Regions from separate parts of the Homo sapiens genome. Here all the other regions are linked to region 1. Evidence: fine-mapped expression QTL. A gene starts in region 1. Each other region holds a variant in brackets. All regions are shown on one strand. Distances are between the middles of the regions.

Region 1 (8,179 bases):
CTGAAAATGGACTGTAGCAATGTTTCTCAAAGGTGCAGATCCTGGGAGAAGGAGGGGTCCACAAAGACAAAAGTATTTTAATCATAATTTGAAGAGTATTTCACTGTGTTGAATTTTTTTTCTTTTGAGACAGTCTCACTCTGTTGCCCAGGCTGCAATACAGTGGCATGATCTTGGCTCACTGCAACCTCTGCCTCCTGGGTTCAAGCGATTCTCTTGCCTCAGCCTCCCCCAAGTAGCTGGGACCACAGTTATGTGCCACCATGCCCAGCTAATTTTTGTATTTTTAGTAGAGACAGGGTTTCACCATGTTGGCCAGGCTAGTCTCAAACTCCCGACCTCAGGTGATCGCCCACCTTGGCCTCTCAAAGTGCTGGGATTACAGGCGTGAGCCACCCCATCTGGCTGTGTTGACATTTGTACTTATGACACAAAGCAATGGTGGGTAAAACTGCTTGCAGTCTGAATCAAGGCAATGTTACCACAATGTACTAGAAACCTTCCCTCCTTCCTTCCTCCCTCCCTTCTTCCATCCCTCCCTTCTTTCCTCCTTCCTTTCTCTCTCCTCTCCCTCCCTTCTTTCCTTCCTTCCTTTCTCTCTCCTCTCTCCCCCCACCCCACCCCCTGCTCTCTCTCTCTCTAGACAAGGTCTTTTTGCCCAGGCTGGAGTGCAGTGGCACAGTCATGGCTCACTGTAGCCTCAACCTCCTAAGCTCAACTGATCCTGAGTGGCTGGGACTACAGGCACGAGCCACTATACCTGTCTAATTTTTTACTTTTTACAGAGATGGGGTCTCACTAAGTTGCCCAGGCTGGTCTTGACCTCCTGGGCTCAAGTGATCCCCACACCTCAGTCTCCTTAGCAGCTAGAACCACAGGTGCATGCTACCATGCCTGACTATTATTTATTTATTTATTTATTTTATTTATTTATTTAGTAGAGATGGAGTCTCACTATGTTGACGAAGCTGGTCTTGAATTTCTGGGCTGAAGAGATCCTCTTGTCTTGGCCTCCCAAAGCGGTGGGACTATAGGCGTGAGCCACTGAACCCAACCATCAGGACATTCTTAAATAAAAATAATTGTTTGTTTGTTTTAAATGTGAGTACATGGCAGTAAATAAAATAATAGACAAATTTTGGTTATTCAGTCTTGGGAATTTGGCAGAAATTTTCTCAAATATGAAATAAGTGAGTCTGTCACTTCAAGGAAACAGCTGACAATATTTGCTGCCAATGTTAAAATTCAAGCTGTCAAGTGAAAACAAGTTGAAAACTTGTTTCCATTACCTTGAGTTTGATAGTTTCCTAATACTTAAACTCCTTTTTAAAATGAAATAGGTGGTGATATTAACAAATGTGATTTTTTAAATACCGTATAATGGCATCTGAAAGGTCAACGTTTAGATTTGCATAACTCACTGAACCAACATTTTCTAAACGACCAATGGCTGATGTTATAAAACCATATATGGGTAAAGCAGCCAATGAAAGGGCAAGATAGACCAATGGATTTTAATGTAACACAGTATAAAAGTTCACCTATAAGGCTTCAGATGACACACTGTGACTAACATTTAAGAAACTGCCACTTGTGGCCTGGCATGGTTCTTCATGCCTGTAATCCCAGCACTTTGGGAGGCCAAGGCGGGCGGATCACCTGAGGTTGGCAGTTTGAGACCAGCCTGACCAACATAGAGAAACCCCATCTCTACTAAAAGTACAAAATTAGCTGAGCGTGGTGGCACATGCCTGTAATCCCAGCTACTTGGGAGGCTGAGGCAGGAGAATCGCTTGAACCCGGGAGGCGGAGGTTGCGGTGAGCCGAGATCAGGCCATTGCACTCCAGCCTGGGCAACGACGGCAAAACTCCCGTCTCAAAAAAAAAAAAAAAAAAAAAAAACTGCCACTTGCAGGCCAGGCATGGTGGCTCACGTCTGTAATCCCAGCACTTTGGGAAATGGAGGCAGGCTGATCACCTGAGGTCAGGAGTTTGCGACCAGCTGGCCAACATGGGGAAACCCCATGTCTACTAAAAATAAAAAAAATTAGCTGGGCATGGTGGTTCACACCTGTGATCCCAGCTACTCGGGAGGTTGAGGCAGGAGAATCGCTTGAACCCAGCAGGCAGAGGTTGCAGTGAGCTGAGATCGTGCCACTGCACTCCAGCCTGGGCGACAGTGAGACTTTTTCTCAAAAAAAAAAAAAAAAAGAAAAAAGAAACTGGCATTTGCTAAATTTTGTATAGTATGAAAGGAGAGTGTCTACAGTTATCTGAAAAGGCAATTAAAATGTTTCTCTCTGCTCCAATTATATATTTGTATGAGGCCAAATTTTCTTCATACACACCAGCCAAAACAGCATAACAAAAAACAGTTTGAATCCTGAAGCAGAAATGAGAGTAGTTTTTTCTATTTCTATTGAATAAACTTGAAAAAACATAAAATAATGCTACTCTTCCTATTAATTTTTTGGAGGCAAATGTAATTGTTTTCCATTAAAAATATTATTTATGTTCAGAAGTAATGGGTTTATTGTTGTTGGAGTTTTTTTGAGACAGGGTCTAGCTATGTTGCCCAGGCTGGTCTTGAACTCCTGAGCTCAAGCAATCCACCCACTTCAGCCTCCCAAACTGCTGGGATCACAGGTGTGAGGCACTGCACATGGCCAATTATTATTATGATTATTATGAGCCACTGCACCTGGCCAATTATTATTATTATTATTGGGTTTTTTTGAGACAGAGTCTCGCCCTGTTGCCCAGGCTGGAGTGCAGTGGCAAGATCTCGGCTTCAAATGATTCTCCTGCCTCAGCCTTCCAAGTAGCTGGGATTACAGACATGTGTCACCACGTCCGGCTAAGTTTTAGTAGAGACAAGGTTTCACCATGTTGGCCAGGCTGGTCTCGAACTCCTGACCTCAAGTGATCCACCTGCCTTGGCCTTCCAGAGTGCTAGGATTACAGGCACGAGTCCATGCCCGGCCCAATTTTTATTATTTTTAAAGGAACTAATTAATGGACATCTTAAGATTTTCCCAGTTTAAATCTTCGATATGGTAAATATCATAAATATAAATAAACAAAGCTCTTTGAGGTAAGAGCATACAGGGGTCCCAAGGCTTAAAAGGTTTGAGGACTGATGTTCTATAGCAACATTACATTGACCTTTCCAGAAGGCAAAATGGTAAAGCACATTTTATAGTACCTCTAAAGTACAAAGGGAAAAGATATATTTTAAGCATATGACAGAATGTTCAATTAAAAACATTTTCTCCACACTACATTCAGTGAATATAAAAAGAATGTGGATTCCCCAGGAACAAATTCCCGAGAAGTGAGGGACAGTGCTGTAATTAGAAAAATGATCTGGACTCTAGCCCAGACCCTACCAGTCTCTCTAGACTTTAGTCTTCCCATCTGCAAAGTGAGATATCAGAATAGCCTATTTTCCATTTGCTTCCAATTGTCAATACCATGACTCTAATCAGGGATCCCTAAATGGGGGCCCACAAGCTGTCTCTGGCCTTCAGAGTGACTGGCCAACCCTGTTTTTGAGAAGTACCCCAAGAGGACAATCAGCTGGTGCTTGGTGAGCAGCTTTCCTTTCAGGTGAGGAATTGATTTTCAGTTACAGCCTCAATCCGGCTCACTAGACTCTCCTCTGCAGACATCTGCATTTACAACCTCTGGAATAAAGGGACCCTCAAAACCGGTCCAAATCTCAAGCTCCATAATTCAGCTCCAGAGACAGGGTGTCTGGGTTTCTCACTCACTCTGCTACATGCTGGTTGTTTGACTTTGGGCAAGTTCCTTAACACCTCTGAGCCTCAGTTTCATCATCTGTAAAATGGAACAACGCTGAACTCAAAAGGCTGGTATGAAGCTTAGCGAGGTGTTGCCCAAGAGTACTTACAGAGTTCTTGGTACTGGAAAGCACTTTGTTAAAGGGAGCTATTATTATTAACGCCAAGGCACAGAAAGGGAGTATTTCCTAAACTCCCTTCACCCCCCACACCAATTCCCTTTCCCAGCACCTGACGATTGCACTCCCACGATCAAGCTTGTTTTCATATCAACTCCCAAATCCGACAGTTCCACATCCCAACATTCACAAGACCCTCCTCAGACCTCTACTTCTCCTTCCCCACCCTACATCCCTTCACTGAGCTCCCGGCCAGTACCGGTTTCCTTCACGACCACAGCCGAGCAGAATGGTCACAGCACTGACCACTCCCCCAGGCTCTCCTCCGCGTTCCAGACCACTAAGCCTCCCTATCCCTCATTTCGGAGACCCCCTTGGGTCAGGAAGTGGTGGTCCAGGGGTTCATGGCCTAGGATTCTGCCCAAAGCGCGGTCGGGAGGGATGGGAGAATAACAGCCCGACCTCCCGGAGGGGCCCACAGACACTCACCGTCCATCCCTAGAGGCGGCGGTTCCGGGAGCTCGAACCGGAAGCGGCCTCTACACTGTTTGCAGTTCCCCTGGTTACTGCGGGGCCCCGGACCAATGACGGTGGAGCTCCACTTACTGAGCCCGCCCCCGGGGAGTGACGTCATGCCGGCGCGCTGGAACTCCTCCTCCGAACCCTGGGTCTGACCCACCTCCCCGGGCCCCGGATCGTTGTGCGCAGGCGCGATGGACCAAGGCCCTTGGCGGTGCGTTGCGCATGCGCCCCGGGCGCCGCCGACTGAAGTAGCAATGGACGCGCTGGAGTCGTTGTTGGACGAAGTCGCTCTGGAGGGGCTCGATGGCCTGTGTCTGCCAGCGCTGTGGAGCCGGCTGGAGACGCGAGTGCCGCCCTTCCCGCTGCCTTTGGAACCCTGCACGCAGGAGTTTCTCTGGCGGGCCCTCGCCACGCACCCGGGCATCAGCTTCTATGAGGAGCCTCGGGAGCGACCCGACCTACAGCTCCAGGACCGGTCAGCGGGCGGCCTGGCCTGGCGGGCGGGCGGGCGGGCGCAGGGCCCGGGGGCTGATGGAGCTGGGGGCAGGGCGGGGGAATGGAGTGGGGCTGTGCAAGTACCGGAGGCCTGTTGATTGAGTTGGGGCACGGCGGTAAGGCTAATCTGGGGTCCCTCAGGCCTGGCAGGGCCCTGGAGTCCGATGGAGTTGGCGGGGGGAGGGGGAGAATCTAGTGATGTCCCGTTTTGTCCCTGTGTGTGTTTTGGGGTAATGGCGAACAGGATTGGGGATATTCTTCAGGCTTAAAAGAATGTTTCCTTTACATTGGAGGATAGGATTAGAGCAGGAAAGACACTTTAGAGCCAGACTGGAGACTCCTGAGATCAACAGACCCTCATGGTATATTCATTCGGTGCAGATAGCCTAGGGCAACTCGAGATCTGCGTATCAGGACAATTAGCGATAATGCTAAAAGCTGACATTTATCAGGGACTTCATGGGTGAGGTGCTGTTCTTTTTTTTCTTTTTTGAGATAGAGTCTCTCTCTGTGGCCCAGGCTGGAGTGCAGTGGCGCGATCTTGGCTCACTGCAACCTCCGTCCGCCTCCCAGGTTCAAGCGATTCTCGTGCCTCAGCCTCCTGAGTAACTGGGATTACAGGCATGTTCCACCACGCCCGGCTAATTTTTGCATTTTTAGTAGGTATGGGGTGTCATCATGTTGGCCAGGCTGGTCGCGAACTCCTGACCTCAGACAATCCGCACCTCTCGGCCTCCCAAAGTGCTGTGATTACAGGCGTGAGCCACGGCGCCCGGCCACATTGCTGTTCTAAGAATCTATTCTAGAAGCTTTAGGAGCTTAAACTCACTTGATCCTCACTTGATTAAACTCCGTTAAACAGGAGATTAAATTCACTTGATCCTCACCTATGAGGTAGGTGCTGTTATCGTCCTCATTTTACAGAGGAAGACACTGAGTCACAGAGAGGGATTATGTAACCTAAGGTTCTGGGGGCAATAAGTGACTAAGAATTGATTTGAACCCAGGCTATTTTCAGCGTCTGTGCTCTTAAGCCATATTGTGAGGGTCAGGGGAGGTTCCAAGAGGTAATAATGTCCAAGACAGGCCGGGTGCAGCAGCTCATGCCTGCAATCCCAGTACTTTGGGAGGCTGAGGTGGATGGGTCACAAGGTCGGCAGTTCAAGACCCGCCTGACCAACGTGGTGAAACCCTATCTCTACTAAAAATACAAAAATTAGCCTGGCGTGGTGGCGCATGCCTGTATCCCAGCTACTCAGGAGGCTGAGGCAGGAGAATCACTTGAACCTGGGAGACAGAGGTTTCAGTGAGCTGAGATTCAGCCATTGCACTCCAGCCTGGGTGACAGAGTGAGACTCTGTCTCAAAAATAAAATAAAATAATGTTCGAGACAAAACTTAAAGGTTGGATTTAGGCAGCCAGTTGGCAAAGAGGACTGTTGGACAGAGAACAGCAAATGTGAAGTAAGTGGCTGAAGTGTGGAATTGGAGGTAGGGAATGAGGAATAGCTAGGACTGTGCTAAGATCCTTAATACAACATGTTATTTAATTTTTACAGAAACCTTAGGAGATGGGTAATATTCTCCCCATTTTCCTGAAGAGAAAATCGAGGCCCTGAGGGGTCAAGTGGCATGCTAAAAGTCAACTAGCAAGGGAAGAACCCAGACTTTGAGGAAGGTCTGAGTTCAGATTCCAGCCAAATTGGACTGGAATCAAGTCTTTTAACCTACTTAAAGAGTTTATCAGCCTGTAATCCCAGCACTTTGAGAGGCAGAGGTGGGCGGATAACTTGAGGTCAGGAGTTCAAGACCAGTCCAGCCAACATGGTGAAACCCCATGTCTACTAAAAATACAAAAATTAGCTGGGCGTGGTGGTAGACGCCTGAAATCCCAGCTAGGTGGAGGCTGCAGTGAGCCGAGATTGTGCCACTGCACTCCAGCCTGGGTGACAGAGGGAGAATCCATCTCAAAAAAAAAGCTTATCCTTTATCAAAAGGACAGTGAGAAGTCACTGAAGAGAGGGTCAGACTAGGGGCAAAGAGTGAAGTTGAGAGATTTTTAGTAATCTAGTCATGGTCTGGCTTACCATGGTGGGCGTGGGGATGAAGAGCACAGGCAGTCAAGACATAGTAGGCTGCTGTTTGGGCACCTGAGCGAACCCTGATTCTCATCTCTGAGGCTGGGAACACGGAAGAACAGCGTGGGGGTTGAGTCTGGGGGAGGTGGGGACTTTGCTGAAGAGACATGTGACACATTTAGCTTCAGGTTCTTTTGAGTTGTCCAAGTGAAGAGTCTTAATTAGTAAACATCTGGCTTCGTGGGAGTGAAAGCAGGCCAGAGGGAGGGACTGAGCTAGACATCTGTGAGTCATTCCTAGCAGCTGGTAATTAAAGCAGCTGGCTAAGATCAGCCCTAAGAGAGAGTGTAGTGTGGTTGGAGGTCTTGAGATATAGCTCTGCAGTGCACCTACATTTCAAGGCTGGATGGAGGGTGAGGGACTTTCAAAAGAAGACTGAGGCGGTGTGGCTGGAGAGGTAGAGGACAGTCAGGTCAGAGTGGTGTTCTGGAAGTTTGGGAGGAGACAGGATCATTTAAGAACGGAGGGTTGGGCTGGGTGTGGTGAATCATGCCTGTAATCCCAGCACTTTGGGAGGCCGAGGCAGGTGGATCATTTGGCCAACATCGTGAAACCCTCTCTCTACTAAAAATACAAAAATTAGCTGGGTGTGGTGGCAGGTGCCTGTGATCCCAGCTACTAGGGAGGCTGAGGCAGGAGAATCGCTTGAACCCAGAAGGTAGAGGTTGCAGTGAGCCGAGATTGCGCCACTGCACTCCAGCCTGGGTGACAAGATCAAAACTCAAGTCTTAAAAAAAAGGAATGGAGGGTTAAATGGTGCAGATAACACAGAGGGGGCAAGGAAGGAAAGGGCTGAAACATGTACATAGGATTTAGCCGCAATTAGACTAGTGTAGGATATGAGTGAGATTTCAAAATAAAACTCGACAAGCAGCCAGGCAAGGTGGCTCACACCTGTAATCCTAGCACTTTGCAAGGCTGAAGTGGGCAGATTACTTGAGCCCGGTAGTTCAAGACCAATCTGGGCAACATAGTGAGGGGAAAAAAAATTATATATATATATATGTATGTATTTTTTTTTTTTTTCAAAAAAAAAAAAACTTGACAAGCTTGGCTAACTGCATGAAAGAAGCACAAATGAAAAATGTCTCCATGGTGTTGTA
Region 2 (8,179 bases), 220 kb before region 1:
CGGTGGGCTCACATGTGGGCAGGATGCCCCCCACCAGGTGGCTCACCATGGCCAGGATCCCATTGTACACAAGCAGGTCGTCCACCAGGAGCTGCAGGGACACGGGGCAGGACTCATGGGTCCCCCTCGTCCCTCCCACGTTGACCTTGGGCAGAACGCGTTACTGCTCTGAGCCAAGGCTTTCTCCTCGGGAAGACGGGGCTGTCAGGAACAAGCGCCTACTGTGTGCTGTGTCTGCCTTGTGATTTCAGATCTTCACAACCATTGGGAAAGGCAGGAGCTATCAGCATGCATTGCAGATGAGGAAATTGAGGCCCGAGGGGCTTTAATACCATTAGCACAAGTGGCAGAGCTGGAGGCAAACTTGGGTCTCTGGTATCCAGGGTCCCTGTTTTCCCCATCCCAGGGTCACCGCCCCAAACCAGTGGGATTCTAGAGGAAAAGACGAAAGAAAACCCACTTTCTATTTGCTCAGGGTGACACTGAAATCACTGCCAGCAGGTTCTGAATTCATGGTTGGGTGGGAAATTCGCCTGCATCTGACGACCAGGCATTTGTGTTGAGGGTTGCAACAGAGAGAAGTAAATCAAACTGCGACAAATGATAATTGCCGGCGGCCTAATTACCAACGAGCATAATTATCTCAAAAAACTCAGCTAATAAGTACTTACGCCAAACTCCTTCACCCCTCGATGGGGTGTTTTCGCATAATTCCACAGTTTGATCATTGACACGGTGGTAGGCAGATCGAAAATCACATAAACCCGGTTCACCTGTCAGAGAGCGGCACTAATTAAAACAGGCATGTTTGGAAACAGAGGCGCTTGGCTGGGCTGGGGGTGCCAGGCGTGGGCTGGGGTGAGCGGTGGTGCCCAAGGCAGCGCCTGCCACGTGGGCCAGCCTGGAGTTCCGCCCCCTTTCATCTCCTCGAAGCCCATCTTGAGTCAGGTCACGTGTGGCTGCATTTGCAACAAACCGCTGAGCTGGCTTTTGGAGGGCCTGTGTTCTTGGGCCTGTCGGAGCCCTCATTTAAATGCCAGTGGAGGATTGGGAACATCCTCGGCCCTCCCCCACGTCCCCTCAGGTCAGGCCCAGAAATAGTCTAGAGCCCCATGAGCTAAAGGGACAGTCCCCAACTCGGGTTGAGCACCAGCCATGGTGATCAGCATCTGACCCTGTCTGTCCTTTCCCCAAACCATCACTGAGAAGCAACGCCAAGGTGCTGCTGGACAATGTCCAGGGCGTGTCTGTGAACCTCCGCTGGGGGAGTAAAAAGGGGGCTGTCTAGATCGGGGCAGAATCCAGTGGGAAAAGTGGGACGGAGCAGCCTCAAACAGCCCTCCCTCTCCCCACCCCCAACCAAAGCTCTCAGATATTAGGGGAGGCCCTCCCTTGCAAGACAGAATCAAGAAATAAGCATTCCACACTGGCCACAGACTGCAGGCTCAGTCCTGCCCCAGGCCCTGGTCCCCAGCCTGTGACCATCCTCAGAATATGCCAAGAGGGAGTGCGGCTGCTCGGGTAGGGCCAGCCTCCTGGCTGGACCATGGAAACAATAAAGGTCAGGGTGAGGGTCTCCAAACTCAGTTGCCTGTGAGGCTCAAGCAGATACAGATGTTGGAGTCCAGCCGCGAGAGCAACAGCTGAAGTCGCCGCACCCCAAAAGGCCTTCCAGTGCTAGACAATGGAAAATACCCGCTGGCCGTCAGTGGGTGGCCTGAGTCTCAGGGAGGACAGAGCTCTGTTGCCCCCTCTGCAATGGGGCAGGGGAAGCTGAGGACGCTCAATAGGGGGGGTCTAATTTTAGGGTGGCCTTTGGAAAACTTCCGTCATAGAATTGCTGATGCTGTACCTTCCTGTGTTTTCAGAGAAAAAGGTGCCCCCGATCCCCCACTCAGTCCCATGGCATGGACAAGGGACACATCCCTAGTCATATGGCTGCCAAGAACCCGCTGTGCATCTCTACCAGGCACCTGGCCCTGGGCTGAGAGGCTGCAGGGGGGCTGACCACCCCGTCCATGCCCTCTCCCCTTCCTCTCCACCACAACCAACCACGTCTTCTCACCATGAGGCCTCAGAGCTAAAAGCTAAGCAGGACCCAGTGCAAGATTTGAGATCTGGGAAACTGAGTCAGTTGGTCGGAAGAGCTGACCAGGCCAATTTAGGGCCAGAAGGAGGGCAGGGCGGCCGTACTGGGGTCATCTACCTGGTGATGTAGGAAGGGGCAGAAACCGTGAGTGTGCGGAGAGCTGGGTGGGGAGGAAGAGGGCACAGTGGCTGCAAAGCCAGGCAGAGCAGAGAACCAGAGAGGGCTGCCTGCAGGGACCCAGGACGCCCAAGCCCTCAGGCAGTTGTGCTGGGGTTCCTGGCTTCAGATTCCCATGGGACCCCTTTCGCCCCAGGTGTCCACTTATAAAAGAGAAAGAACTGCTGGCCTGGAAGAGCTGACCCCATCAGGCAAGTTAGCAAAGACCTAAACCTTTCTGACAGCTCCCAAGCATCTTGGCTTGAGATTAACTTGACCTGGAAGAAAGACGTGTCACTGAGACCAGGGAAAGAAAGTCCCCCTGCCCGCCTGAGGGCCAGGAGCTGCGGTGGCCGCTGCCGGGAACCCACCAGGCCCGGCAGGATGGGAGCCAGCCACATGTGCCGGCCATCACTGGTGTCGTTCACTTGGTCGATGAGCTTGTCTGGGGTGCGGACGTCCCCGCCCACACCCTCCAGGGAGTTCACGCTGTCGGGGAAGGCCGCAATATCTGAGGAGACGTCTAAGTTGCCATAACCCAAATCTGTGTGCTCGGGGCTGCCAGCCACCCTCAGGCTGATGGCGTGGCTCGGGGGACTCTGGGGCTGGCAGGGCTGATGCTTTGGGCAGCCGCAGCAGTGACAGCTGAATTGGACGTGTCCTGGGGAAACGGGGAGTGCCGGGCCCAAGGGGAGCAGGTGTGTCTGGAGAGGTGGTCAGTTTCAAGTAGAGAGAGAAGGAAACCACACAGAAGGCCAGCTGAAAAAGAGACGTTGCAGGGAACTGCCAGAGCTGGGGACGTAAAATGTTGCTGCTGCTTGAGAGGGTGGAGGGCAAGCTCTGCGGAGGTTTTCTTTTGGAAGGGAATGGGGCGGTGGCTGGATTCTACCCTGGCATGTGAGTATCATGCCGAGCCTCTCTTCCTGGTCAGTGTGGAAGGACCTCGGAGCAGCTGGACCCAGCTAATGTGATCTGCAGAACCCAGCTTCTAGCTCTGCCTCTGCCATTATGACCTGTGAGGGCGTGGGCAAGTCACAGGTCAACCCTGGGCCTGTTTTCCCATCTGTAAAATGGGTATAAAAACCTCCAGCTCCCAGGATGGATGTGAGGATCTCAGAGTGCACCAGATGTGAGCACTTTGGTAAAATCAATGAAACTTTATAGCTTCGAGGAGTCGCTAATAATGATCTAAAACATCAAGAATCATTCATCCCAGCTGAGGAGGGTGGTGGCACCAGGGGAAGGCAGAAAAGGATCCAACTGGAAGCCAGGGACCCCAAACAGATGCAAGGCAGGCTTTGGGGTTCGACTTGCCCTGGTATTTCCCTAACTGTGGTGGGCCAGGGATCACAGATTCAAGATCCGAGGGGGCCAGGCAGGTTACATGAAAGAGGCAGGATAGCCTACTGCTTGGTCAAGAGCTGGTGTCTGGACACTCACTGGCTGTGTGACATTAGGCAAGTTACTCAATCTCTCTGTGTCTCAGGCTCCTCATCTGTAAAATGGGGATAACAGCAGCAATCACCTCACAAGATTGTTGTGAGGGCAGATGAGGTAGCACAGAGTGAGCCCTGAGAAAATATTAGCAGTGAGTTTCGGGGCCTGGTAGATAACAATGGGAGGAGTGGGGGGCTAAGGTAGACCAGAAGGATATGCTTGGGGAGAAATGGCAACAGATAACCAGGTCCAGCCATTGTCACTATGCATAATCAAGGGCCTGTGTTGCCAATTTCTCAGGGGAAACCAGAGATCAGGGTTTTCATGTGAAACCTCGTGATTTCTAAAAATATTAGCAACTCATTTTAAAATGCACTGGGCTAACAGTCTGCAAATTCTGGTGTGGGCATACTATGCACAAAGGGTTCCATACTTAAGAAATTCAGGACACACTGAGTTGAACACAGTGCAACAGGCTTCTCCCTGCAGACCTTGTCAGAGCCTTTGGAACTCCAAAGTATCTGTGGTTCTCCGAGAAGGGGGCGCTATAGTTGGCAGCCTCTCTCAATTCACTGGACCACAGGACTCTGGTTTGTGGAATTCCTGCTCCTGATGTCTTAGCAGGCAGGGCTGGGAGCTGCTCTCTGCTGCCCGTCCCCAAGGGTCAGCATCTGACTATAAGCAAAGCCCCCTGGGCTCTGGTTCCTAGAGGGCCATTTCCCTCTGCACACAAGGCTTCTGCCCCGTTCCCGACCCTCCCATGCTCCCTTCAGTCTGGGTGGAGCCCACTCCTGTCCTACAAAGGATACTGTTTTCCGACAAGGGGATTTTTTCTCCTCGCTCGTCATACAGCTCCAGGCCGGTGAGGCCGATGTAGTAGGGGTCGCCCCAGCTGGTGAGAAGCTGAAACTGGAAAATGACTGGGACACTTTATTAAGGAAAAGAAGGCTTAATTTTTTTTTT[TC/C]AGAATATAGTAAAACAATGGCAAAGATAAGAGGAATTGTTTTGGGTTTATGTTGATGAATGAGAGAAAAACATTTTTCTCTTATTGCAACTAGAGCCTATCAAAATATAGGTAGCATCACATTTTCTTAAATTGCATGTGTGTGCATGTGTGTGTGTGTGTGCATGTGAGTGTTCATGTGTGTGTATGCATGCATGTGTGCACGTGTGCGTGTGCCCGTGTGTGTGTGTATTAGGAATTCAAAGCCTTCCTCTAGGCCCCAGGAGACAGGACGGGAGGAGAGGGTGCTCTCCAGGGAGCAGGCAGGATGGGGAAACATCTGTGTCACAAACTGATTGTATGGTATTGAACAAAATGCTCCAGTTTCCCTGGTTGTGAAATGACAAGAACAGAGTACCTGCAACCTCCTCCATCCCTTTCAAGTAAACAGGAGGCTAAGAAGGGGACACATAAACCTCACAGCGCCAGGGGCCATGGGCCGGGGCAAGGAGACCACCATTGCTGCTGAAGTCCCACGTGCAGAGCTGGGCATCAAGCCTTTCCTCAGCCCTGTGCTCTGCTCACTCCCCGCACTCCCAGGAGCAGGCCGGGTGGCTCTCAGATGATGGCATAGCCAGAGACAGTGCTTCCAGAACTGGCTGGCTAGAGAGCGGGCCTTAGAGCCAGGCTGCCTGGGTTCACCTCCCCTGGGCCCTACCCCTTCCCACCTGTGCAGCCTTGGGCAAATTACTGAGCCTCTCTGTGCCTCAGTTTTCCTAGCTGTGAAATGGGAATGATAGTAGTACCAGAGTGCTGGGCTCTGCTGCCTGGGCTAAAGTACAGTGGTGCAATCAGAGCTCACTGCAGCCTCGAACTCCTGGGCTCAAAAGGTCCTCCCACCTCAGCCTCCAAGTAGCTTGGACTATGGGCATGTACCACCAGCTAATTTATTTATTTTTTTTTAAGATATGGAGTCTCATTATGTTGCCCAGGCTAGTCTCAAACTCCTGGCCCCAAGCAATCCAACCTCCTTGGTCTCCTAAAGCGCTGGGATTACAGGTGTGAGCTATTGTGCCTGGATTGCCAAGTTATTTCTATCTTCACCTCCTCCCTGGCTGGTTCCAGGACACCCCCCTTCCCCAGTCCAGCCACTGGGGTCAGTGCCAGCTTCTCTAGCCCCTCCCAGCTGGAGTCCTGGGTGCTGCCCCCTCCAGCCTCAGCAGGAACTAGCCTGGCTGCCCCAGTTCCAGCAGCTCCTAGTGGCCCTGAGGACCCAGGAGGCCTCCTATCCTCTGCCTTGGTTTCCTTGCATGGAGTTCCAGCTGCCTCATCTGTGGCCGCCTGAAACCCTGGCTGGGCAGTTGCGGCCCAGGCGCTGCCTCGGGGCCCAGAATGTGCTGGTGGGGCGGGAGGAGAAGGATACAGCCACAGGGCATCAGCGGTGCCTCGTAGTCCATGCTTGCACACTCCAGGCTTCTCATGTCCAGCCTGAAAAAGCACAAAACAGCACCATGAAGAAGCTCACGACGGCCCAGAATCACCAGCCAGTTACCCCCTAGGTAACAGCCTTTGAAGAAACATGGCAGTTTAGCGTTCCCTAGGATGCAGCAGGGAAAAGAGAGATGAGGCCCCTGCTCGTGTGGAGTTCCCGCTCTAGATGACAGTCATTGCCAATGCTGGCAGGATGCTGTGCCAGGGAGGCACGGGGCTCAGGGCTTTCCTGAAATGGACTCTTTTATTCCTCAACACAACCCTAGGAGGTGGGTATTTTTAGATGCTTGGGATGTGGATGAGGAAACTGGAACACGGAGAAGTGAGGTCACTTGCTCAAGGCCATGCAGCTGGTAGTGGCAGAACCGGGATGGGACGTGAGGTTGCCTGGTACCACTGCCCCCTTTCTTAACCAACCCCCTCTATGTCTTTAAACACAAGGAGGGTCCACGCTGTGCCGACAGCCAGGACGGGGTGACAGGGCAGAGGGACTGGGTGGGGCAGGCTGCCTCAGGGAGTGCTCTGGGAAGGCCTCCAGGAGGAGGCAGCCTTGGGAAGTGCCAGAGCTGAACCTTCCACGCAGAGGAGCAGCAGAGCAAAGGCCCAAGGTGGGAAGTCACTGGGCTGCTGGTGTTTGCCCCAGAAAGCGGCCAGAGGGCTGGAGTCTGGGGCAGGATGGGGAGAGGGAAGTGAGAGGAGGCTGGAAGGCAGGCACAGCCCTGATGGCTTTGGCTTCATGATCTTCAGCACCTGGCTCCACCAGCCAGAGCCTCAGTTCCCACATCTGTAAAACGGGCATCATACTGGCTAGGTCAAAGGGTGGCTGGAAGGATTTCCCAAAGGACACATCAAAGTGTTCACACAGCTGGCCCTCGGGAAGGATCCTCTCCTCCACGGCCCTCCTGACGGGGCCCCTCTCCCTGGTCCGCTGTCAGTGCCCTCCAGCCCTAGCCTGGTTCTCTTCCATTTCAAGGGCAATGTTACAATTAAATGACTTCCTAGTGACCAGCCCAGCCAGCCAACCCCGCTACAGTGCAGGGAAACTCATTTTGTTTCAAGAGCTTGGCCTCTGGCGTTTGGACATCAGGGGGTTTCAATGAGTAAACTTAACGTGGCATTTACAAATCGTTATGAACTTAATGCAGCTGAGACTGGGGCCGAGAAATCCCAGTGAATCCATGAAATATTAAGCTCTATTTTTCTCCTTGAATCTTTCTAAATCAGGAACACAGAAACGGGAGAAGGAAGGCCCTTCCCCAAACTGGCCGGCAGGCATTTCTGGAATGGAGGCAGGCTGTAGCCTCTTTTCTCAGCAGGAAACGCAATGAAGCATTTAAAATCTTCAGCACTCCAGACTGTGAAAAACCCAAATGTCCCCAGACAAGGTAAGTCCATTCCACAGGCTTCCGGTGAGGCTTGGCTGAGCTTTAGAAAATGACTAAGTTGAAAAGCAATGCGTTTGATCATCGTTTCAAAACCCTTTCGGAATGTACATCAGAGCAACTTGCAAAGCAAGCGGGCCCAGGGGCCGGGAGGGGCTGTGTGTGGCGCCCACTTTCTCCTCACCTCCTGGCCGGCTGGGGCAGCAGCTGAGCCCGTAGGTAGTCCACGAAGAGGATTTCTTGAGCAAAATCAAAGTGGCAGTTGCCTGGCCCCTTCCGGATGAGAAAGCCCTCTGGCGGGGAGACGCACAGGCCATCCAGGGAGACGTGGACAATCTTGGCCTGGCAAACAAAAGAAATAACATGACTGAAGGGAGGCAGGCCATGTGGGGACAGAAGCGGTGCTGACGTGACCGGAGCTGCTGGCAGCTGTGCTCACCATGGGGAGCCTTTCGCAGAGCCACCTGACCGAGGTCCATTTCCCATATCAGGTGCTGTGTGGGCGCTGGGCAGGTAGCAGAGGACAAGACAGGCGAGCCCCCTGCTACAGCGGACACTGGTCCACGGCTTTCAGGGGTGGCACGTGACTTGGCCAAGGCCTCGCCCACCTCAACAGCTGCAGCGGCCTGGGGCGGCATGAGATGGAGGTCAAGGGCATGGACTCAGGCGCTTCCATGTGCA
Region 3 (8,179 bases), 110 kb before region 1:
CCACTGCCGGCCAATCCACGGATTTTGTAATATGGGAATAAGATTTTCTTATAAACCATACCTAGGATTTACGATTTCAGAGCTGGCAGGTGCAGGAGATATTTAATTCACCGCTTCTTGTTAAAGGAGGAAATGGGGGCCCCAGAGGAGTATGACTTAGCCAAGGCCCCAGAATGTTTATGGAAAAACCCAAGCTACCTTCCCAGGCTTGCGGAATCTGTCACTTGGTATTTCTCCTCCCTAAAACAAGACTCGCAAACTCCGACATCCTCAGGAGGCGTAATGTTATATAAACTATCAAATAAACCACAGTGTTGTACAATAGGTAGTGGGGACCAGGCCAAACTGGGGGTGCATGCTCAGAAGAAAAGTTTTCTAAGTCCAAGTCAAACAGCAACAATGATAACCATGGCGTGCCACCAAACCGGCCAACAGAACACATCTGTGAGCTGAAGCTGGCCCTTCTAGTCACGAATCTGAGCCCTCAGTTTGGCCACACTCCCTCCCATTCCTCAGTGTATTTCTATCCTTATCCTGCATTTTAGCATATTTTTTCAAGTCATACCTAATCAGAAAGCCTCTCCTACATGCCTCTATTTTCTCTGCATTGTTTTTTCTCAAGTTTGAGCCACATTTTAAAATGTAACCAAACTTAGAAAAACCAAATAGGATGGGTACATATTTATTTTCATAACATAGTACTGTCTTAATATAATAACAATGCAAAATTAATTTTCTATTTATCTAAAATTCACTTTTTTTTTTTTTTGTATAGACAGGGTCTTGCTCTGTCCCCCAGGCTGGAGGGTAGTGGTGCGATCATGGCTTAGGGGAGCCTCAAACTCCTGGTGTCATGCAATCTTCCCACCTCAGCCTCCCGAGCAGCTGGGACTAGAGGTGCAGATTAGCATGCCCAGCTAATTTTAATTTTTTATAGAGATGAATTCTCACTATGTTGCCTAGGTTAATCTGCAACTTCTGGCCTCAAGTGATCCTCCTGCCTCGGCCTCCCAAGCACCAGGATTACAGGCATGAGTCACTGAGCCCAGCCAAATTTACCCATTTAAATAGTAAAAAACCTAAACAAATTATTCTGTATGTAAATATTTTGAAAATATATGAATACTTCCTTGTCTTCTTAAAAGACTATGCTGAACATAATTCAGTCTTTTTTTGATATTAATGGTCAATATTTTGGATACAAATTGACCTACAGGCCAGGCATGGTGGCTCACGCCTGTAATCCCAGCACTTTGGGAGACCAAGGCAGGTGTATCACTTGAGGTTAGAAGTTTGAGACTAGCCTGGCCAACATGGTGAAACCCCGTCTCTACTGGGAAAAAAAAAAAAAATTAGCTGGGCATGCTAGCACACATCTGTAATCCCAGCTACTCAGGAAGCTGAGGGATGAGAACTGCTTGAACCCGGAAGGCAGAGGTCACAGTGAGCTGAGATCATGCCACTGCACTCCAGCCTGGGCAGCTGAGTCAGACTCTGAAAAAACAAACAAACAACAACAACAACAAAAAACAAATTGACCTATAGTACAGGAGATATTTTTAGGGGCTATCTGCTTCTGTACTTCCATCTGTTATTTTTTTAAGGGACATCGTCTCCCCTCCAGGTTTCCAGAAGTGCAGAATATGGTTCCAAAGAGAAGGGCAGACCCCACCTTCCATCCTGTACCTTTCTGACCTTGGTGAAACTCTGTATTTTTGTTGCTTTTTAACTGGTTGGTCATCTTAACTTTGTACAATGTAGAAAAGCTTTTAATTTTGATTTTTTAAAATATCCCTTTTTTACAGTCCTCAAATCTAAGCCAAAAAGTCCAAAGTAACTTAAAAGATGCTCCTTCCATTGGAAGTGTGCTCTAATCTTCAGGTCTCTGGTTCAGAATCACTGGGAGTTCTTTTGCTAAAAATGTGCTACCTCCTATCTACAAATTCTATTAGCTTAAAAGTTCAGACCTAAAAAATGCGTCTTAAACAAATATCCTAAGCGATTCTTATGCATATCCAACTTTGAGAACTGCAGCTTTATCTTTTCCTTATAACTATGGTTCTCAAACATTGCGACAAATTATAGTCACATAAGGACGTTAAAAAAGGGAACAATGGCTGAGTGCAAACCCAGAATCAGATCCTCTGAGTGGTAAGACCTGGGTATTTGTGTTTTTATTTAATTTTTACTCTTTATGTTGAGCTAATTATAGATTTCCCATGCCATTTGTAAGGAAAAATAAAGAGAGAGCCCATGTACCCTTCACCCAGTTTCCCCCAATGGTAATACCTTGTATAACTACAGCATAACATCACAATTGGGAAACTACATTGATACAATCCTACTATGCTGTTTTTGTTTTTGTTTTTCCCAAGATGGAGTCTTGCTCTGTCATCCAGGCTGGAGTGCCGTGGCATGATCTCGGCTCACTGCAACCTCCGACTCCCGGGATCAAGCAATTCTCCTGCCTCAGCCTCCCAAGTAGCTGGGATTACAGGTGCACACCACCACGCCCAGCTAATTTTTGTATTTTTAGTAGAGACGGGGTTTCACCGTGTTGGCCAGACTGGTCTTGAACTCTTGACCTCGTGATCCACCCACCTCGGCCTCCCAAAGTGCTGGGATTACAGACATAAGCCACTGCGTCTGGCCTTGTTTTTTTTTTGTTTGTTTTGTTTTGTTTTGTTTTTTGTTTTTTAACTAGGTATGCTTTCTTTAGTAGAGATGGGATTTTGCCATGTTGGCCAGGCTGGTCTTGAACTCCTGACCTTGGTGATCCACCCGCCTCGTCCTCCCAAAATGCTAGGATTATAGGTGTTAGCCACTGTGCCCGGCCATTTTTCTCTATTTCTTCTTTTGGTGATGCTTAGTTCTACTGGAGCAGCTCCTCTCCTCTTTAATGTGCTAGCTTTTTCTATTTTGAAAAAATGTAAAACCTACAGAAAACGTATCATGCTAGTATAATGAACACCCAAATACCCTTCACGTATATTCACCAGTTGTTAACATTTTGCCACATTTCTCTCCTTCTCTCCCCTCCCACTTTTTCCTTCTCAATATGTACACACATATTCTTGATCCTGACCCATTTATGCACAGCCCCTCATGCCTGCACACTTCAGCATGTGTCTCCAGAGAACAAGGACATTCTCTTACATGGCCACAATGTAACTATCAAACTCAGAAAATTTAACATCAATACAATATTATCTAATATAATATAGTTCATCTCAAATTTCATTCATTTTCCAAAATTCTCCTTTTATGTAGCAATTCCTCTCCCTCACACCCCTAGGATCTCATCACACTGCCTTTATTGTGTTTTTTTTTAGGATTTTTTTTTTTTTATACTTTAAGTTTTAGGGTACATGTGCACATTGTGCAGGTTAGTTACATATGTATACATGTGCCATGCTGGTGCGCTGCACCCACTAGCTCGTCATCTAGCATTAGGTATATCTCCCAATGCTATCCCTCCCCCCTCCCCTCCCCACCACAGTCCCCAGAGTGTGATATTCCCCTTCCTGTGTCCATGTGATCTCATTGTTCAATTCCCACCTATGAGTGAGAATATGCGGTGTTTGGTTTTTTGTTCTTGCGATAGTTTACTGAGAATGATGATTTCCAATTTCATCCATGTCCCTACAAAGGACATGAACTCATCATTTTTTATGGCTGCATAGTATTCCATGGTGTATATGTGCCACATTTTCTTAATCCAGTCTATCGTTGTTGGACATTTGGGTTGGTTCCAAGTCTTTGCTATTGTGTTATTTCTTTACTCTCCTTTAATCTGAAACAGTGCCCTTTGTCTCTCATGCTACTGACTTTTTTTTCTTCCTTTTTTTTTTTTTTTTTTTTTCTGAGACAGAGTCTCACTCTGTTGCCTAGGCTGGAGTGTAGTGCCATGATCACAGCTCACTGCAGCCTCAACCTCCTGGGCTCAAGTGATCCTCCCACCTCAGCCTCCCAAGTAGCTGGGACTACAGGCATGCACCACCACACCCAACTAATTTTTTGTAGAGATGGAGTCTCCCTATGTTGCCCAGGCTGGTCTGGAACTCCTGGCTTCAAGCATTCCTACCACCTCGGCCTCCCAAAGGGCTGGGATGATAGGTATCAGCTACCGCACCTGGCTGCCACTGACATTTCTGAAGACTCCAGGCCAGTTGTTTTTAGAGTATCCCCCTCAATTTGGGTTTGTCTGGCTGTTTCCTCACTGGATTT[C/T]GCTTTTGAAAAACATTTTTCATCCACATTTTCAGTCATGGATTCACTGAGGAGATATTTGGCTAAGGAGAGTTCTCTCTATCATTGTTTAAAACATTATTAAGCATAACTGATGGATGGTCACCTCTGAATACCTTGCTCCTGGGTATAACATCAATAATATTCACAACAGACTGTGGCACATTCTGAGCAAAACCAGATGAGTGCAATATTCCCCGCCTGTGACTGTGAATTGTAAGGAACAAGGAGTCATGAGCCTGGGCTTCCAGCAGGGGCTTCCCTGAGGCCTGGGTGAGCAACATTATTTCTTTATTCCTCAGTTTCCTCAAACCATAACATGGGAATGAAAATCCCTAGAACTTAACTCACAGGGTTAACGTCGTGATGGATGTTACATGCTCAACATGGTGCTTGGCACTCGGTAAGTGCTCATTTAACGTGAGCTCTTATTATTTAAATGTAACATCATTAAGTCAAATCTCTTGTGAATTGTTTTACATCTTCTGGCCAGGCGCAGCGGCTCATGCCTGTAATCCCAGCACTTTGGGAGGTTGAGGCAGGAGGATCACTTGAGCCAGGAGTTTGAGACCAGCCTGGGCAATAAAGCAAGACCTTGTCTCTCAAAAATAAATAAATAAATAAATAAATAAATAATTGGCTGGACATGGTGGTGCGTACCTGTAACCCCAGCTACTTGGGAGGCTGAGGTGGGAGGATCACTAGAGCCCAGGAGTTCAAAGCCGCAGTGAGCCATGATTGCACCACTGTATTCTAGCCTGGGAGACAGAGCAAGACTCCATCTCTTTAAACAAACAAACAAACAAAATATATATATATATATATATATATATATATATATATATATATATATATATATCCATTCTAGGGGGTAGCAGCCCAGCGGTTTTTGTTTGTATATTTGTTTTGAGACAGCTTCTCTCTTTGTCATCCAGGCAGACATGCAGTAGCACAATCATAGCTCACTGCAACCTTGAATTCCTGGACTCAAGTGATCCTCCGGCCTCAGTTTCTCAAGTACCTGGGACTGCAGGCACATGCCACCACACCCTGCACATTTTAAAAATTTTTAGTTGAGACAAGGTCTTGCTGTTTCCCAGGCTGGTCTCTAACTCCTGAGCTCAAGCCATCCTCCTGCCTCAGCCTCCCAAAGTGCTGGGATTACAGGTATAAGCCACCGTGCCCGCCCTGTGGTTTTCCTAGACTCTCTCACGGAGTCCATCTTAAGGCAGGCACAGCTGCTTGGCTACGGAAAAGATCCCCAGCCCTTAGGGGTTAGGATGCTGAAAACTGATCTTACCATCACATCCTGAATAGTTAAGAGGATCCTTTCTTTGTCCACGCTGCTTGAAGGGTCAGAATGTCCACATGCATTCAGAAGGGAGAAGTTAAAACCACAGGGCTTGGTACTGGTGGGAGATTTGGTATCCTAGGGACAAGCACAGAAAACTGGGCATGGTAAAAACAACTTCCTGTCCCTGAAGACATGCTGGGGCCTCGCTCTTCTGTTGGTCTCCCTGCCTCCCATCTTCTCCTCATTAAATCACCCTCTGCTCTTGCTCCTAAAGTGGATCTGATCACTCTCATCCCTGCTACATCAACACCATTGCTGGCACACAGCCAGTCAATGGACCAGGATCCAAACTCAGGCCACCAACTCCTAAAACAGTGCTCTGAACCATGGAGCTGTATGGCAGTTGAGTGAGTACCAGTGTAGAAAGATGGCCAAGGTATGTTGTTGAGTTTTTTTAAAAAATGGGAGGCCAGGCACAGTGGCTCACATCTGTAATCCTAGCACTTTGGGAGGCTGAGGCGGGCAGATCACCTGAGGTCAGGAGTTCGAGACTAGCCTGGCCAACATGGTGAAATCCCATCTCTACTAAAAATTCAAAAATTAGCCAGGTGTGTTGGCACGTGCCTGTAGTCCCAGCTACATGACAGGCTGAGGCAGAAGAACTGCTTGAACCCAGGAGGCAGAGGTTGCAGTGAGCCAAGATCTCACCACTGCACTCCAGCCAGGGTGACAGAGCAAGACTCCGTCTTTAAATAAATAAATAAGTAAATGGGGCTGGCCATGGTGGCTTAGCCTTGTAATATCTGGAAATTTGGGAGGCTGAGGCAGGAGGATTGCTTGAGCCCAGGAGTTCAAGACCAGCCAGGGCAACATAGTGGGATATGAGACCCTATCTCTACCAAAAAACTCCCCAACAATTAGCTGGATGTGGTGGTGAGTTCCTGTTGTCTCAGCTCTTCGGGAGGCTGACGCAGGATGACTGCTTTATCCTGGGAGGTAGAGGTTGCAATGAGCTGTGATTGTGCTACTGCACTCCAGCCTGGGTGGCAGAGCGAGACTTTGTCTCAAAAAGAAAAAAAAAAAAAAGTGGGAAAATCAAATAGCATGGATGGTATAATCCCATTTATGTGAAAATAACCATTAAAAATGTTAAAAAGGCACCCACTCAGAGGTCATTTATATGGTAACCCCAAACAGCAGGAACTGCCCTAAGTTCCTGCTGTGGTAAACCCCACGCATTGAAACTGCCCTAAGTCTCATCACTGGAACGAATGAAGGAAGACTGAAGGGATGTGCTGCAGAGTCTGGCTGGGGGCAGGGTTGGGGTGGGCTGGCCAAGGATGGTGGTCTTTAGTCGTTTATAAATGTCAGCAATAACCACTTTAAGACACTGAACTGTTACTGTGAGAAAAAACCAGACTCACCCCATGCCACCATCCACCCAATGGAAAGAACACTCAGAAGGCATTCCAGAAGACTTCAGGGTGGCCCTGTCTTCCTGTCACGTATCACGCTCTCAGGGACTTCAGAGGTAACTAAACTTGGGAGATACCACTCACTGGGAACGAGACAGGTCCAGGATATTCTGGATCAATGATCTCTTCTTGGATATAATGAAATATGCCATTTTTAGTCCGGATGGTTATCTACCCATCTACTCACAATAATTATCTCTGGGGCAGTGGGATTATGAAAGGACTTTTGTTTTCTTTGTATCATTTGATTTTTTGTTTTTTTTCTTTTAGAGACAGGGTCTTGCTCTGTCACCCAGGCTGGAGTGCAGTGGCATAATCATCGCTTATGGTAGCCTTGTCATTTGAATTTTTTATATCAATTATGCATTATCAGGAAAATAAGTATCATAATTTTTTAAAACGTAAACTTTGTTTCATTCCTGATACATCAACAGAGACAATATAATTTTTTTTTTTTTTTTTGAGATGGAGTTTCACTCTGCCCCTGCAGTACAGTGGCTCCATCTCGGCTCCTGTAACTTCTGCCTCCTAGGTTCAAGTGATTCTCCTGCCTCGGCCTCCTGAGTAGCTGGGATTACAGGTGTGTGCCACTACACCTGGCTAATTTTTATATTTTTAGTAGAGATGGGGTTTCACCATGTTGGTCAGGCTGGTCTCGAACCCCTGATCTTAAGCGACCCTTCACCTCCCAAAGTGCTGGTATTACAGATGTGAGCCACAGCGCCCAGCAAGAGACAATACCACTTAAACGGTGAACATATCATCCATTGCAGCATACAACCATGTGCCCAGGAAAGCCAACATAACTAAGACTTGCCACTTTGGCAGAACTCTCTGGAAAGCGGTGTCTTCCTTTCACCAGAGATGTAAAACAGGTATGATGGTTTCCCCTCAAACTTAAGGAGAATCCCGTATCTTTATTTCTGCCCTCAAGCCCCATGCAATCTGACCCATGGCTGCTTCTCTGACCTCTCCTCTACTTAAGTATCACCTCATCAAGGGGAAGCCCCTGCACCCTCCATATAAAATAGCAGCCCCTGGCCATTTTTCTCTATCCCCTTCCTATTTTATTTTTCTTATCAGCCCTGTTGTCTCCTGACACATTATATACTTGTTTCTCTTCTGCCTTATCCTCAGTGTCCGGAATGGTACCCAGGATGGTGGT

The links. PIP is the estimated chance that this variant, and not a neighbour inherited with it, causes the effect.
Region 2: its variant is fine-mapped to the expression of KATNIP in whole blood (TOPMed, PIP above 0.99).
Region 3: its variant is fine-mapped to the expression of KATNIP in whole blood (TOPMed, PIP above 0.99).

What each region holds. Positions count from the first base shown.
Region 1 is chr16:27,546,410-27,554,588 of GRCh38, reverse strand. KATNIP (katanin interacting protein) reads right to left here and starts at 4,445. Exons shown (of 28, transcript NM_015202.5): 1 at 4,412-4,445. The coding sequence starts at 4,418. It overlaps GTF3C1 (general transcription factor IIIC subunit 1), which reads left to right and starts at 4,676. Exons shown (of 37, transcript NM_001520.4): 1 at 4,676-4,919. The coding sequence starts at 4,699. RefSeq lists enhancers at 4,580-4,689, 4,700-4,779.
Region 2 is chr16:27,769,522-27,777,700 of GRCh38, reverse strand. KATNIP (katanin interacting protein) reads right to left here. Exons shown (of 28, transcript NM_015202.5): 21 at 7,683-7,840; 22 at 6,049-6,113; 23 at 4,492-4,602; 24 at 2,617-2,756; 25 at 672-773; 26 at 1-91. Among named protein-coding and RNA genes, the nearest start is that of KATNIP, 220 kb to the right of the region's middle. RefSeq lists enhancers at 2,726-3,226, 5,463-6,228, 7,065-8,179. The variant TC/C (reference allele first, on the strand shown) is at 4,646.
Region 3 is chr16:27,652,103-27,660,281 of GRCh38, reverse strand. The region is part of intron 6 of KATNIP (katanin interacting protein); the gene reads right to left. Among named protein-coding and RNA genes, the nearest start is that of KATNIP, 110 kb to the right of the region's middle. The variant C/T (reference allele first, on the strand shown) is at 4,228.